Linked DNA regions of Homo sapiens: region 1 is linked to region 2. Evidence: fine-mapped QTL for protein levels in blood plasma. A gene starts in region 2. The other region holds a variant in brackets. All regions are shown on one strand. Distances are from middle to middle.

What was found. PIP is the chance, under the fine-mapping model, that this variant and not a neighbour inherited with it causes the effect. Protein levels are from the aptamer-based SomaScan assay of Sun 2018.
Region 1: its variant is fine-mapped to the plasma level of the ITIH5 protein (Sun 2018, PIP 0.95). The variant lies in the coding sequence of ITIH5. If it changes the protein, the assay may bind it differently, which can mimic a change of level.

What each region holds. Positions count from the first base shown.
Region 1 is chr10:7,576,261-7,584,260 of GRCh38, reverse strand. It overlaps ITIH5 (inter-alpha-trypsin inhibitor heavy chain 5), which reads left to right. Exons shown (of 14, transcript NM_030569.7): 9 at 4,197-4,506; 10 at 7,249-7,808. Among named protein-coding and RNA genes, the nearest start is that of ITIH5, 87 kb to the left of the region's middle. The variant A/C (reference allele first, on the strand shown) is at 4,349.
Region 2 is chr10:7,663,531-7,671,530 of GRCh38, reverse strand. ITIH5 (inter-alpha-trypsin inhibitor heavy chain 5) reads left to right here and starts at 4,565. Exons shown (of 14, transcript NM_030569.7): 1 at 4,565-4,728. The coding sequence starts at 4,639.

The DNA of each region.
Region 1 (8,000 bases), 87 kb after region 2:
GACTCCAAGCCTTAGAAACCCTGTGGGTTTCCTTTATTTTTCTTGAACTGCATTGCCCTAGCCTCTGCAGGTGAACAGCAGATCAGCCTGCTTCTCTCTAAGACGTGTAGCATCAGGATTGTGAGCATGGATTTGGAAGCCAGACTGCCTGGGTTTGAATCCAGCTCCATCTTCTCTGTGCCTCAGTTTCCTCATCTGTAGAATGAAGATAACAATGGAATCGTTACCAGGATGGAGTGAGTTAAAGCATTTCAAGTGGTTAGAATGGTCCTGGCACATAGGAAGTCCTCTTTAAGCATCAGATGTGGCCATTATTTTCACCCACTCAGGTAACCCCTCTCGCTGGTGCTTGTGAGTCCTTTGATGACAGCTCCTGTCTGTTTTCAGTGGGAAGGAGATGCCCCAGTTGCTGTGGGCTTGATACCAATCCCTGCAGGGCCTCTGGTGGCTGTGTGCCATCGGGAAAGCTAATCCGTCCCTCTGCCTGTGCTCTCCTTGGCTTTAAAGTGGAGTGAGAGATTTGGCACCATTGCTGAATAGAGACAAGAGAAAAAAATGCCAGTTCATCCTTGTTCACACATCCAGGGGCACTAAGAAATTAGACTGGACCTTAAGAAAGGCAAATTAGGCCAGGCGCAGTGGCTCATACCTATAACCCTGGCACTTTGGGAGGCCAAGGCGGGTGGATTGCCTGAGCTCGGGAGCTCGAGACCAGCCTGGGCAACATGGTGAAACCCCATCTCTACTAAAATACAAAAAAATCAGCTGGGCGTGGTAGCTTGCGCCTGTAGTCCCAGCTACTGGGGAGGCTGAGGCAGGAGAATTGCATGAACCTGGGAGGCGGAGGTTGTAGTGAGCCGAGATCGCACCACTGCACTCCAGCCCCGGTGACAGAGTGAAATTCTGTTTCAAAAACAAACAAACAAAAGAAAGGCAAATTAGTGATTCCAATAAAATGTAAAATAACTTTCTTTCCATTTGGGCTCTGCATCTTAGCAAGAATTATGAACATTTGGTCATGGACATAGCCTTATCTACTTTTTTAGCTAGAAAATCTGGAGGATGTTAAGCCGTGGGGGAGATGATCTGGTTCTCTCAGATGCGGTACATTTTAATTTTAATTTTTAATTTTTGTGGGTCCAGAGTAGGTATATGTGTTTATGGGGTATATGAGGTATTTTGATACAGGCATACATTGTGTGATAATTACATCAGATAAATGAGATATCCATCACCTCAAGCATTTGTCCTTTGTTACAAACAATCCAATTATACTCAGTTATTTTTAAGTGTATCATGAAATTATTATTGAATATAATCACCCTGTTGCACTACCAAGTACTAGATCGTCTTCATTCTTTCTAACTTCTTTTTGTACCCATTAACTATCCCTACTTCTGCCCCACCCCCCACTACCCTGCCCAGCCTCTGGAAACCATCCTTCTACTCTTTATCTCCATAAGTTCAATCGTTTTAATTTTTAGCTGCCACAAATAAGCGAGAACATGGGAAGATGGTCTTTCTGTGCCTGGCTTAATTCACTGAATATAATGAGCTCCAGTTCCATCCATCTTGTTGCAGATGACAAGATCTCATTCTTTTTTGTGGCTGAATAGTGCCCCATGGTATATATGTACCACAAATGTGGTAAAATTTGCAGGTAGAGAAAAGTCACTCCAGTCAGGATGATGGATGGTGGTGATGGTCATCAAACTCTAAATTTACTACAAATCATGAATTGGACACTTAGAATGGGTGATCTTTTGGTATGTAGATTTTATCTTAAGCCATTTTAAAAAAAAAACAAAGGAAATAGGTGTTCACACTACAGTAAGGTCTCTGCTTTACTTGGTAATGGTGGGATGTTGGTAGCTTAGTCCAGTGGAATTCTTAGCTAACCCAGAAACCTCACTGTAGCTGGGGTTTCAACCTCAACCACCCAACCACCTGTCTCCCCATCCACCAAACAAATACTTGTTCAGCTCCTATCAAAGACACAGGCCCCAACTTTATTTATTTATTTTGCTCCCAAACTTAAATTGTCTGATTTATTTTAATCATAAAGTAGTAAATTTAAGAATACATGGGGCCAGGTGCTGTGGCCCCTGCCAGTAATCCCAGCACTTTGGAGGCCGAGGCGGGCAGATCACAAGGTCAGGAAATCAAGACCAGCCTGGCCAACATGGTGAAACCCGTCTCTACTAAAAAAGTACAAAAATTAGCCAGGCATGGTGGCGTGTGCCTGTAATCCCAGCTACTCGGGAGGCTGAGGCAGGAGAATTGCTTGAACACAGGAGGCAGAGGTTGCAGTGAGCCAAGATCACGCCACTGCATTCCACCTTGGGCGAAAGAGCATGACTATATCTCAAAAAAAAAAAAAAAAAAAAAAATACATGGGTGGCCGGGCATGGTGGCTCATGCCTGTAGTCCCAGCACTTTGGGAGGTTGAGGTGGGAGAACTGCTTGAGCCCAGGAGTTCGAGACCAGCCTGGGCAACATAGTGAGACCCTGTCTCTAAAAAAAAAAAAAAAAAAAAAAAGAAGGAAAAGAAAAGAAAACATGGGAACATTCTTTTTAAAGGAAGCAGTAACCTGTAGTGTAACATACATGCAGAAAAATGTACATGTAGTAAGTGTACAACTTGATATGTTTTCATAAACTGAACAGAACCTGGACCCAGATCAAGAAACAGAACATTTAGAACTCCAGAAGCCTGCTCATGTTCTCACACCATTTTTTCCATGGAAGTATCTATTCTAAAACATTTGAGGAATAAAGAAAATCATCAAAAGAAAAAAAGGAGAGAAAAACCTCCTGCTGTCCACAGATGCCTGCTAATGTCATTGGTGTTTATTGTTCCATCATTTCTCAGAGTTGAGATTTGTTTTCTGTTTCGTATGGTTTTTCTAAGCCACATATTCCTGATAAAATTTTTCTTCCCTTTCGCCCCCAACTTTATTTTATTTATTCATTTATTTATTTTATTTTTATTTTTTCTGTTGAGACCGCGTCTCACTCTGTTTCCCAGGCTGGAGTGCAATGGCACGATCTTGGCTCACTGCAACTTCCGTCTTCTGGGTTCAAGTGATTTTCTGACCTTAGCCATCCGAGTAGCTGGGATTACAGGCATGTACCACCATGCCCGGCTAATTTTTGTATTTTTGGTAGAGACAGGGTTTTGCCATGTTAGCGAGGCTGGTCTCGAACTCCTGACCTCAGGTGATCCACCCACCTTGGCCTCCCAGAGTGCTGGGATTACAGGCATGAGCCACCGTGCCTGGCTGGCCTCCAACTTTAATCAGAGCTGTTGCTGACAAGGGCCTCTGAAGGAAAAAGGGTGGCCAGGAGGAGAAATATTTCATGGCTCCTTTCTCTGTGGGGTTCTGGCAAGCAGAGGTGATCTGAAGGGACAGGAAGCAAAGAAAGGAGAGACGATGAAGGCAACAAATTCATTCTTTCATCAGCTCCACCTAGCCCTAGACAACACTGGAAGGCATCTGAGATGTCAGCAGCTACCCTCCTCCTCTTCGTTCCATGCCCCTCCTCCCCTCTGCGGCTCTTTCTCCCTCCACATTCCTGCTGTCTTCTATGCTCAACACCTTCCTGCTCTTTTCAAAGCCATTCTCAGAAGAGGGCACAGAAGCCATTGAAGCTCAGGTAAGCTAAGGCGTCGCCACATGCCTTCTGGAGAAGGTTTGTTACAGTGGGATAATCCCCATTCACTTATATGCATTTAGTAAATGCACTTGCTTTTAGCAAGTTTCTGGATGGCCCCTTAACACCTCACTCCTGTGAGCATTTGGGTGGTTGAGCGTGAACTGCAGCTATGAAAGTGCATTCAGGCTGGGCATGGTGGCTCATGCCTGTGATTCCAGCACTTTGGGAGGCCAAGGTGGGCGGATTACTTGAGGTCAGGAGTTTGAGACCAGCCTGGCCAACATGGTCAATCCCATCTCTACTAAAAATACAAAAATTAGCCAGATGTGGTGGTGTGCACCTGTAATCCCAGCTACTCGGGAGGCTGAGGCGGGAGAATCGCTTGAACCTGGGAGGCGGAGGTTGCAGTGAGTGCAGATTGCGCCATTGCACTCCAGCCTGGGTGACAGAGCAAGACTCCGTCTCAAAAAAAAGAAAGTGCAATCAGAGTGCGGAGGTGAGTGCAGAGGCTTGAGCTGTTCCGTGTTGGTGTCCTGCAGGCACAGACATCAACGGGGCCCTGCAGAGGGCCATCAGGCTCCTCAACAAGTACGTGGCCCACAGTGGCATTGGAGACCGGAGCGTGTCCCTCATCGTCTTCCTGACGGATGGGAAGCCCACGGTCGGGGAGACGCACACCCTCAAGATCCTC[A/C]ACAACACCCGAGAGGCCGCCCGAGGCCAAGTCTGCATCTTCACCATTGGCATCGGCAACGACGTGGACTTCAGGCTGCTGGAGAAACTGTCGCTGGAGAACTGTGGCCTCACACGGCGCGTGCACGAGGAGGAGGACGCAGGCTCGCAGCTCATCGGGTCTGTGGTCTGTCTTCGTAGGCATGAGAGGCTGTTTGAGGGGCTGAGGGGTGGCTGCGGTGGGAATTCAGAGAGGAGTGTGTTGCTGCACCCCAGCCTTGCATCTGCTGACAACGATCATAGCTCATTGCAATGGGAGGTGTCACCATGTGTTTTGAAACTAGGCAGATCAGAGTTCGAATTCTGATCCTCCTTTATGACTTTAGGCAAGATTTTTTTTTTTTTTCTTGTGATGGAGTTTCGCTCTTGTTGCCCAGGCTGCAATGCAATGGCGTGATCTCAGCTCACTGCAACCTCTGCTTCCTGGGTTCAAGCAATTCTCTTGCCTCAGCCTCCTGAGTAGCTGGGACTACAGTCACACACCACCACGCCTGGCTAATTTTGTATTTTTAGTAGAGACAAGGTTTCTCCATGTTGGTCAGGCTGGTCTCGAACTCCTGACCTCAGGTGATCTGCCCGCCTTGGCCTCCCAAAGTACTGGGATTATGGGCGTGAGCCACCACACCCGGCCCTAAGCAAGATTTTAAGACAGTCTGTACCTCCGTTTTCTCATCTGTAAAATGAGGATTATGGTTGGTTGCAGAATTTAATGAGAAAATCGCTATATAAAAACACTATGTATAGCACTGGCACAGTGGCCATCCCATATTAAGTATTTAATGAGCTCTCATAGTTCATTGACATCCTGATATTTCAAAGCACTTTCTAGTAAGTTTACTTTTATTCTACCCTGTGAGCAAGTAGCAGAGTACTGTTATGTTCATTTTGAGTACTAGTTAAAAGATACTTTTATTTGGAAGCAAAACCATCAGATAAAACTGTTAAATAATCAGATTATTTTGAGGTGGAGAATAAATGAGATCTTTTAAATGAGAGATGGAGAAAACTCAGATCTTTTAAAACAGAAATAGCTTCCCTCCGATATTATGTTGCCACGCATCAGTCTGCTCCTTTGCTGTTCATTGAGTGAAGTGCCAGCTCCCAGTTCAGCGTGAGGTGCTTTAATCTGCATCGTGGCATATGTGGTATCTACTTAAAAGCAAAGGGGAGGTTTGGGTAGATTTATAGGTGTTTAATAGCCATAGTCAAAGCACATTTATTAATGATAAATGGAAATGGAGACACCTAAGGTGTGCAGTAAAGACAGGTCCTCGGTTTGGGATTCGCCACCGTTTCCTCCCACGCATTTTAATGAAAGATTTAAATGAAAACACAGATTTGCTTTCCACATTTTAAAAATTATTCAAAACTAGAGTCAAAGGGGAGAATCTGATACACTGGATAACAGAATTGAAATTCAATAAGGCATTCAGAAGCAAAAGCAGTTATGCTGTAACAAGTCAGCTGCACTGCCATCCCACTGAAACTATGATCGATACCTGGCATTTATGAGAACTTATGATACACCAGGAACTTCGATGTGCATCATCCCAGATGATCCTCACAGAAATCCTAGGAGGTAGGTGTATTAGGGTAAAGGCTAAGCTGCAATACAGAGATGATGAAAGGCAAAGGCTGAAATAAGATAGCCATTTCCTTCCCTCTCCTGTAATGGTAACAGGCTAGATCCTGCTCCCAGAAGTCATTCAGGGACCCAAGCTCCTTCTGTTTTATTGCTCTGCTTCCCTCAGGTGTTGTCCTTAATGCTACAGGATTGAAATTCAGTCACTATCACTCTTGTTTTCTAGCCGCAAAAAGGGAGAGAGAAAAGAAAGCCAGCATGGATTGTAAGCAAATATTGAGAAGTTGCACATCTCACTGCTACCCATATTCCATTGGGAGGACATAGTCACATAGCCATTTGTGGCCTCGATGGAGGCTGGGAAATGTAGTTTGTAGCTGGATGGCCGGAGCTCAATTCTCATGAAAGAAGGGGAAAATGGACTTTCAGGGACAGCTAGTAGGTGACCAAAGAAGTACTGTTTACATCCTGATTTTCTAGATAAGGAAACTCAAGTTCAGAGAGGTTAAGTCACATGTCCCAAGACACACAGCAAGGAAGCAACAGAGATGGAAGTCTAACTCCACAGCCTATGGTTTCTAGGCCTTTTGAAAGGGAATTTTAATTGTCTCCTTACTTAGCAAGAAGCGACCATGCAACTTAACTACAAGGAAAGCAAATGCAAGCAAATGTTATACGCACAAACTCACGAAAGTCAGGTTTCTGAAGTAGAATGCGCTGCTTAAAGCACATCTGGAATTTGTATTTGGTTCTAAGAAAAAGGTTTTTAAGAGTCCCTTTAAGAAACGTAAGTGTACACAAAGGAAATTTACCAAGACTGGTGAGGGAATCTTGAAATTGTATCACAGGAAGAATAGTTCATGAAACTGGGGATTGACTGGGCTTAAAGGAATGCACAGCATTGTTTTTTAAGCATCCAAATGTCTGTTGAAATGGATTACACTAATTCGATATTGTTCCAGAGGCAAAACTGAAACCAGTGGGTGGAAATTTCAGGGAGGAAGATTTTAATCTACTATAAGCAGGTTTTTTCTCATCATGAGAGTGGTTGAAAAACAGCTCAGAAGCCGCGTGAGAGAATGCATTCCCTCTCACCAATGGTGTTCAACCTGCTGCCTAGTGATCTCCTGGCAGAAATATTGTGTGGGGTGCCATGTTGGACTCAATTGCTTCTAAAATCAGATGCATCCCCCTGAGAGTCTGCAGTTTCCTTTAGGACTGTCCTGCCTGCTGTCAGAGCAGGGCCCTGATCTCCCTCCCTCCCTGTGCTTCCACTGCAGGTTCTACGATGAAATCAGGACCCCGCTCCTCTCTGACATCCGCATCGATTATCCCCCCAGCTCAGTGGTGCAGGCCACCAAGACCCTGTTCCCCAACTACTTCAACGGCTCGGAGATCATCATTGCGGGGAAGCTGGTGGACAGGAAGCTGGATCACCTGCACGTGGAGGTCACCGCCAGCAACAGTAAGAAATTCATCATCCTGAAGACAGATGTGCCTGTGCGGCCTCAGAAGGCAGGGAAAGATGTCACAGGAAGCCCCAGGCCTGGAGGCGATGGAGAGGGGGACACCAACCACATCGAGCGTCTCTGGAGCTACCTCACCACAAAGGAGCTGCTGAGCTCCTGGCTGCAAAGTGACGATGAACCGGAGAAGGAGCGGCTGCGGCAGCGGGCCCAGGCCCTGGCTGTGAGCTACCGCTTCCTCACTCCCTTCACCTCCATGAAGCTGAGGGGGCCGGTCCCACGCATGGATGGCCTGGAGGAGGCCCACGGCATGTCGGCTGCCATGGGACCCGAACCGGTGGTGCAGAGCGTGCGAGGAGCTGGCACGCAGCCAGGTACGAGGCACCTGTGCCAGCCAGGTGTGGGGGACGCGGGCCTGAGATACCACTCACCTCCTCCACAGGAAGCCCCAGCAGGAAGCTGTGTTATTCCATCTTGCTATAATACTTATAAACAATAACCCAGACCGGGTATAGTAGCTCACACCTGTAATCCCAGCACTTTGGGAGGCTGAGGTGGGATCCCTT
Region 2 (8,000 bases):
AAAATACAAAAATTAGCCAGGCATGGTTGAGGCTGAGGAGGGAGAATTGCTTGACCCCGTGAAGCAGAGGTTGAAGGGAGCTGAGATCACGCAACTCCGTTCCAGCCTGGGAGACAGAGATCTTGTCTCAAAGTTAAAAAAAAAAGAAAAAAGAAAAAAAAGAAATACACCATGATGACTCAGTTTTCTCCTTTCAGAAGCAGATGGAGAAAGTGGGGTCAGGAATGTGCACTGGTTGGCAGATTTGTGTTTGGGGATCACTGTGTTATACTTTCCCAGTTTTCAGCACCCCCACCCCCCCCACCAAATTCCACAGGCAACTGCCCAGACTTGAACCTCAGAATTTTATATTGTTCTTTCCCCACTGTCAAAGCCTTTTCCACCCTTGTTCCCCCTCCTTCCTCTGTCTCCTTAATGTTTTCTCTTCTCCACTTGGCTTTCAAAATCAAATTCATGCAAATATTAATTTCCACGTCCTTCATGAAGCCTTCCAGACCACAAATACAATCACAATCTTGTCCCTTCTCCTCTTAGGAAATCACTACTGAGTTCAAATTTTGTCCATTTTGTTAGCTCCATCTTCATATCTAAATGGTAACTTCTTCAAGGTCACGGAGTCTGTCTAAAACTTGTCATATTACACACAACTAGCACAGGGTAACATAATGGCAGATATACATTTTTTCATTCATTCATCAAGCATACAGCACGTCTACTCTATTCCAGGCCATGTGTCAGAGCCTGAGGATGTCAAAACAAGAATGATAGAATCCTTGACCATGAAGAAATCAGAGTCTAATTTAGGTCTCAAATCTGCAAGCCAATAATTAAAATATGGTAAGTGTTACACTTTGTGAACAGTTGAGTTCAGCAATCACCAATCATATATTAGAAAACTGCATTCCCTATTTCTTCCTTCACAAATCTCTGTGGACAAAACTCAGTGTTTGGTGAAGCAGATGAAAAGTAGGTATAACTAGACTCCTGACACGCTATAACTGGGCTCCCGAGAAATCATCAAGTCAAAGTCAAAAGGAACCCATTTCCTCCCTAGTAGTCCCCTCTAATCAAGAAAAAAAAAAAGCCAAGGTTGTAAAAACCTGTAGCGATTCTACACAGTTGTCAGGGGGCCAAGAGAAACACACAAGGCCATATAAGTAGATAAAAAAGGAGTAGACCAAGGATGGGGAGAAAGAGCTGTCCCAAATAGAACAATGGCCTTACAGAGGCTCAGAAGGGAGGATGAGAGAGGGAGAGGAGGTGGAGACCAAAGAACTGGGTGGTGGCTTAACTCTAACCATAGCTAGATTTAGGAGCTATGGGGTGTCAGGATGTAAAATCAAGGGAGAGGTTTAAAAGAAAACAAACAGGCAGCCTGCTTTCAACTCGTTAATCTCGTTAAGTCATGGTTGTTTTGACCATGATTTTGGGCCCATCTATTGGTAGTCTCCAGTAGGAGACCAGGATAAAGGGATAACTCTCACAAGTGTGATTCGACAATTCTGGAATACTTTGGCCCATCATTCAGTTACTTGAGGGAATGATTTCCTAGAAGTGGCGTGGACAGAGCAGCATCTCTGGCCCAGGAGAAACAGCTCCTGTTCATTCTTGGACTCTGAGTCCCTTGTCGCTGAGCTCTGCCTCTAGATCCTGTCCGTGAACCCCGGGGGCCTTCCCTGTGATTTGTCACTCGTGGCACATGGTCCTGGTGAATGAATTGAGCTAGACATCGTGCAGGGTCTTTTCTAGCTTTGAGATTTTATGTGTTCAGTAACTGGAAATTCAGCTCCTCCTGGAGGTAAAATGAGAAACATGGAATCAAAGGACAAATGTATGTGGGGACACCTTGGCCCTTATTTATAAGGCTGATATAAATCACTGTCTTTGCTTGTTGACAGTCTTGGAAAACTTTCACTAGGTCTTATTTTTATCACACCTACCTAGATTTTAAAGATCATCATAGAGATACACAGGTGTCACATAGAATACTGAACTATTACAGCTTGAAAATAATAGGAAGTTCAGAAACTCTGTCAAGTCATACAGCTAGGTAGCGGTCAAGTTTGCACTATAGCCCAGCCCCACCTCCCTGGCACAGCCTGGCTCTACCATCCACACTCATTCCTCCCATCTACTAATCTCATTCATCAAAAGGTCCTTAAGTGCTAACAATATATTTAGCACAGTTCTAGAAGTTGGGGGAGAGGCTTGTCCTCAAAGAACAGATCCAGTTGGAGAAACTGGCTTTATATTAAACAAACAACACATTAGAACCACAGTCTAGGGTAGAATCAGAGGGTCCTCCCAGATGAAAATAAAACTCACTTTTCTTAACATTAGACTGCTGTAAAACCCAGTTAGTATGAATTTGGGAAAAAAAAAGAGATCAGATATAAAGGCAAAAATAGTTTAATATGGGCCCTTTCAGCATTTCAAGTTAGGGATGGCAGGGAAGGAAAGACGATGGAGTCTCTGTTCTGTTGCAATCATGGGTTGAAATAATGGCCGCTGTATGGTTCCCTATTGCAAATAAACTGGCTTTGTCCAATTCAACTTCTGGTTCACAAATAGTTACTTTCCTCTGGAGGGAAAAATAACCGGCTACAGTTGTTTCTTATTGGTTGCATGCTGACTAGTGGTTAGGCTATTAAAGGATTAACTGCTGATGACAATAATTTTCCTTTCATTTATTTCACAGTAGCAAGGTGTTTGTTTTTAACCTCTCCTAATTCATTAAACAAAGAGCATTTCAACAAGAATAGATATTTTCGAGGATCTCACCACAAACTAACCTACCCACTGCTTTTATTTTTCATGTTTTTTTTTTCTAGTTATGTCCCTCCATATGTATTTCTACCTAATTGCAATCATACTGTTGATACGATTTGGTGATGTGATTTTCTCTTTAGATTACACTGTCAACATTCTCCATGTTTCTGGAGACGTCGCACGATTATTTAATGGCCCCATAGTAACCTGCATGGAATAGTATTCTCTATTCCATGGTCCGAAGTTAGCCCCTTCCCTGTTCTTGGTCCTTAAAGGGTCTGTCACTCACCTCACCTATTTAGATGAAATTATCACAGAGACATAAAAAACATCCTTTGCAACATGAAATAAACAAGTAGCCCCAACTGCAATGTGTATCACCAGATAAAAAAGACGCACTCAGCCTGTAGAAGGCCAGGTGTGGACGGCTGGTGGGTAAGAATTCTTCCAATGGCAGGATGGAAGTATCACCAATAGTTTGTAACTAAGATACATACTGGCACTCACTTACATGATTAATAACCAGAAACTCAGAAATACTACACGCTACCAAGATACTTCCCTCGTCTCCTCTGTTTCCTTAGAACATAAAGGCTGGCAGCCTTGCTAGTCCCTCCTGCGCTAGACTGCAGGTAGTATCCTTTGTCCTGCCTATTAAGCGTCCCTGGCCAATGCAGAGGGGACGATCTGCCGGCTTCAGGCTGGCAGGTGCGGGGTGGGCTGTGTGCTGAGGACCAGGCTGGCCTTCTCGCGTCCTCTGGCGACAGAAATTAAGCAAGTCCGCAAAGAAGCATATTGCACCTTGAGGGAGAGGAAGAAAGAGTTGCGGGGGCGCGTGGGGTAGGGCCCGGGAGGCAGTGGGTGTTGGCAAGAAACGGAGTAGGAGGCTCTACAGAGGAGACTGGTCCTTGGTTAAGTGTCACAGCCGCAGGATGGGAGGGTGTGGGAGGGGTCCGTGGGGCCAACACAGGTGGCCCCTGCTGTGCGCGGCGAGGCAGGCTTGGAATGCCTTCTCCCCGAACAGAGCTAGCCCAGCACTGGGGGCTGGAGGCGCGGCTCTGGTGGGACTGAGGCCGGGAAGCGGCGCCGGGCGGGGTGGGGACTGGGGAGGAGGCGGGGCTGGTGTGGGGGCCACAGGGAGGCGGGCCGGGTTTAAGGGGGTGGCTGTAGGTGGGGTCTGGGAAGTTGGCCTCGGTGGGGACAGGGACAGGAGAGGTGGGGCCGGGACTGGGGAGGTGGGGGGAAATGGGGGCGTGGAGAAACGGAGCTTGGGGTTGGGGACCTGGGGAAGCTGGGTCCTGACTGGGGACAGGGAGGCGAGGCCGGGCTTGGGGGGTGTCCAGGGAGGCAGGGTGTGGGAAGGTCTGGGGCGGGGAAGTGGGGTCTGGGCTGGGGTGGGAGAGTTGGAGTCCAGAAGGGGACCGCGGGGTGGAAGGGGTCCGGGCTGGGACCGGGGTAGGCGGAGTCCAGGAGGGGACGCAGGGTGGGCGGGGTCCGGGCTGGGTCCGTGGGGTGGGCGGGGTCCGGGCTGGGACGCGGGGTGGGCGGGGTCCGGGCTGGGTCCGTGGGGTGGGCGGGGTCCGGGCTGGGTCCGTGGGGTGGGCGGAGTCCAGGAGGGGACCGCAGGGTGGGCGGGGTCCGGGCTGGGTCCGTGGGGTGGGCGGGGTCCGGGCTGGGTCCGTGGGGTGGGCGGGGTCCGGGCTGGGACCGCGGGGTGGGCGGGGTCCGGGCTGGGTCCGTGGGGTGGGCGGGGTCCGGGCTGGGACCGCGGGGTGGGCGGCCCCGAGAGCGTCCCGCAGTGGCTGGAGCCCTGGGCGCTGCAAAGCGTGTCCCGCCGGGTCCCCGAGCGTCCCGCGCCCTCGCCCCGCCATGCTCCTGCTGCTGGGGCTGTGCCTGGGGCTGTCCCTGTGTGTGGGGTCGCAGGAAGAGGCGCAGAGCTGGGGCCACTCTTCGGAGCAGGTAAGTGGAGCCGAGGGGAGCCGGGTCCCGGGCGCGGCCGCCCCCTTCCCTCCGCCGGCCCGGCCGCGGAGCTTCTGCCCGGGCCCCCTTCGACCGTCTCCCAGGCCCCCACCAGAGGCCCAGGGGTCCCTCTCTGTGGGTCACTCGTGCGTCACCTCTGTGTGAGCCGCGGTGCCTGATCTGGCCTGAGGCTTCCTGCAGAACTGTGCCCGGGACTTGTCCTGCGGAGCCGAGTTTTTCTTCTTGGCTCCTGTTGATTGCGCAGATTTCTGTTCGTCGTTGTTAATTTCTGAGGTAGCTCCAAAAGTTATTATAATTACAAGGTTTTTTCCTTATCACGCGTGGGGGGCAGTCTGCTGTTATCATCATTCCCAGTTGATCCAGGGAGAAAGGCAATATGAGAGGAGTTCTAGACTCCTGGGAGCCTCAGCTTTTCCCACCTGAAAACCGGGAGAACACGACTTTCCCATTTAGCGACTACCTACCGGTGGTTTAGCATTTAAAGGTGGCACCGAGAGCCAAAGCGTCTGAGTTCCTCGAGTTGCTGGTCTGTGCGTTTGTCAGGATTTGTGTTTCAAATGTCTTAACCTCGCAGGCGAATAAAACCTGCAAATATGAAATGTCAATAAAATGATGAATAGAGCATTTTTGTCTTTAAAAAGTATGAAGCGGGTTCACACAAATAGCATTGAGAGCTAATGTGCAACATGGCCCTGTCACAAAGTAGAAGTGCTTTCACACACATGCCATTTAAATATTTAAGCCGTTTAGCTTCCAGCGTGTTTGTGCACGGTGGGAGGAAGATACAAGTAGGCGGACCTTTTCTCCCTTTTCCAGCCCCTGTTTTGAAGAGCAGTTTTGAAGCCCAACTGCCTAAATATGAAGACAGTTATCTTCATGTTCTCTGTCCTGTGAATGTGCTTAACAGTAAAGTGGTAGTAATGATACTTCCTTCTAGGGGGGGAGTAGCTAATAAAATCCCAGGAGGCATCGTAGTGATGTTGGAAAAGTGCAGGCTTTGGATGCAGAGACAGGCTGGGCTTTAGTTGTGTGTTCCGGGCAAGCCCTTTAATCTCTCAGAGCCTTCATGTCCTCGTTGGTCAGGGCAGGGAATGCGGCTCTTTTTGAGCAAACTTGCAAGGACTCAGCTAATTTGTGTTAAGCACCTGGTATACAGTGGACGCTCAATAACTGGGAGATGTTTTAGTAGATGGCTGAAGGCATGGGCTTGGTACCAGGATGTCTGGGACCACTTGATTCTTGATTCTGTCACTTATCAGCTCTGGGACCCTGATCAAGTGCCTTTCGGCCTTATATTCCTCTTCTGTGAAATGTGGAGAAATGATAGGGTTGTGAGGACTGAATGCATTATGACACCCAAGTGCTTAAAACACTGTCAGCACTTAATGCTGGCCATGGTCTTAGACTCATGCTGCTGACATGCTGAGTGAAGGAATTTAGGGTAAAGATCTTGAAACTTTTTTGGGGGTGTGGAGACAGGACAGTGTGGGATGGACTGAAACAAAGATTCTGTGTCTGAACTAGGAAGGCTGTTTAAACTCTAGCATATACCAAGTTCAAGTAGGCTTCACAGTCTATGGACTTGCTGTCATAAAAAAACATGGCTTGACCTCTTTTAGTGATTTCATGCTGTCTTCAACCCAGCACAATATTTATTTATCTTGAAAATGACTAAATCAGGAAAAAAAATCCAAGGTATAAAGTTCTATGAACTTGCAATTTTACCTTTTATCCCTAATCCGTTCTTTTTTATATTTAGTTTTTGTGATATAGGGTTTGAGAGCATAGGCTTTAGCACCAGAATTCTGGGTTCAAATCTTGGCTCTGCACTTACTGAGGAGTTACTTAACGTTTGTGAGCCTCTATCTCTGTATGGGGATGATGCAATTACTTAGGATTTTGAAAAGTGAAACAATTAATATACTTAAATCTTAGAACAGAACCTGGGAATGTAATGAGCACTCTATTCTCAATCATTATGGTCTTTAAAATTGTATGTAAACTTAATTTGAAAAATGTAAGTCTATGCAAATCTTATGCAAATTTTAATATAGCTGAATATGACTATTAACTTGCATTGCAGTTATTTGTCATTCACCTGTAATTGGAAATATACCAGTAACACCTTAGATTCAAGTTCCTTCACCTCTCACCCTTCACCCCATCTGTAGACAGTGGGTACTCAGTAACCCATAGTGGAATGACTCCTAAAAGCAGTGGTTTTCACCCTTGGGGTGGAAAAAGTCACTTGGGGTGTTCATTAAACATTCAGCTTCCTGAGTTCCACTTCCATTGGTTTAGATCCATTGGGTTTGGGATGGGGCGCAGATGATTCTGATGCAGGTGGTCCATGGAACACATTTTAGTTTTTTTTTTTTTTTTGAGACGGAATCTCGCTGTGTCGCCCAGGCTGGAGTGCAGTGGCAGGCTCTCTGCTCTCTGCAACCTCTGGCTCCTGGGTTCAAGTGATTCTCATGCCTCAGCCTCCCAAGCAGATGGGATTACAGGTGCACTCCACCATGCCTGGCTAATTTTTGTATTTTTAATAGAGACAAAAATACATCACGTTGGCCAGGCTGGTCTCAAACTCCTGAGCTCAAGTGATCCACCTGCCCTGGCCTCCCAAAGTGCTGGGATTACAGGCATAAGCCACTGTGCCTAGCCGCACACTTTGAATAGTAGTATTTTTAAAGGATATTTTGGGAAATTAGTATTTAAAAGAAAATCCCTTGTATAAAAACTGTCTGCTACAGACTTATCTGTTTTGTTAGCTTAAATTTATATGGTGTCTTTAAAGATAGAGTTATATTCCCATTATTATCAAAGCAGTTTTAGATTGACAAAATAGTAAAAGCCACCAGTTATTGAGTATCTGTAATGTCCCAATGTCTCAGGGAGTTTGCTAGGAGCTTTATGTGAAAATAATAAGAGGCAATAATGTATTCTGGTTGAGTACTCCATGTGGTGCCGGACTGCCTGGGCTCATATCTGGACCCCATCACTTACTGCCTGTGTGTACCTGGGCAAGTCACTTAACCTCTCTGGGTCTCAGTTTCATCATCTGCAATATAGAGTTGTTAATAATTCCTACTACATAGGCAGGGGTGGATCTAGGCTTTGGGAGGAGAGTAAAGTTTATACAATTTGCAGGACCCTCTTGAAGGAAAAAAGTATCAAATTATAACTACAAAATTAGGTGCTAAAATGACTATTTATTTAGAAAGATAAAGAAAGCACAACAAATTACACAT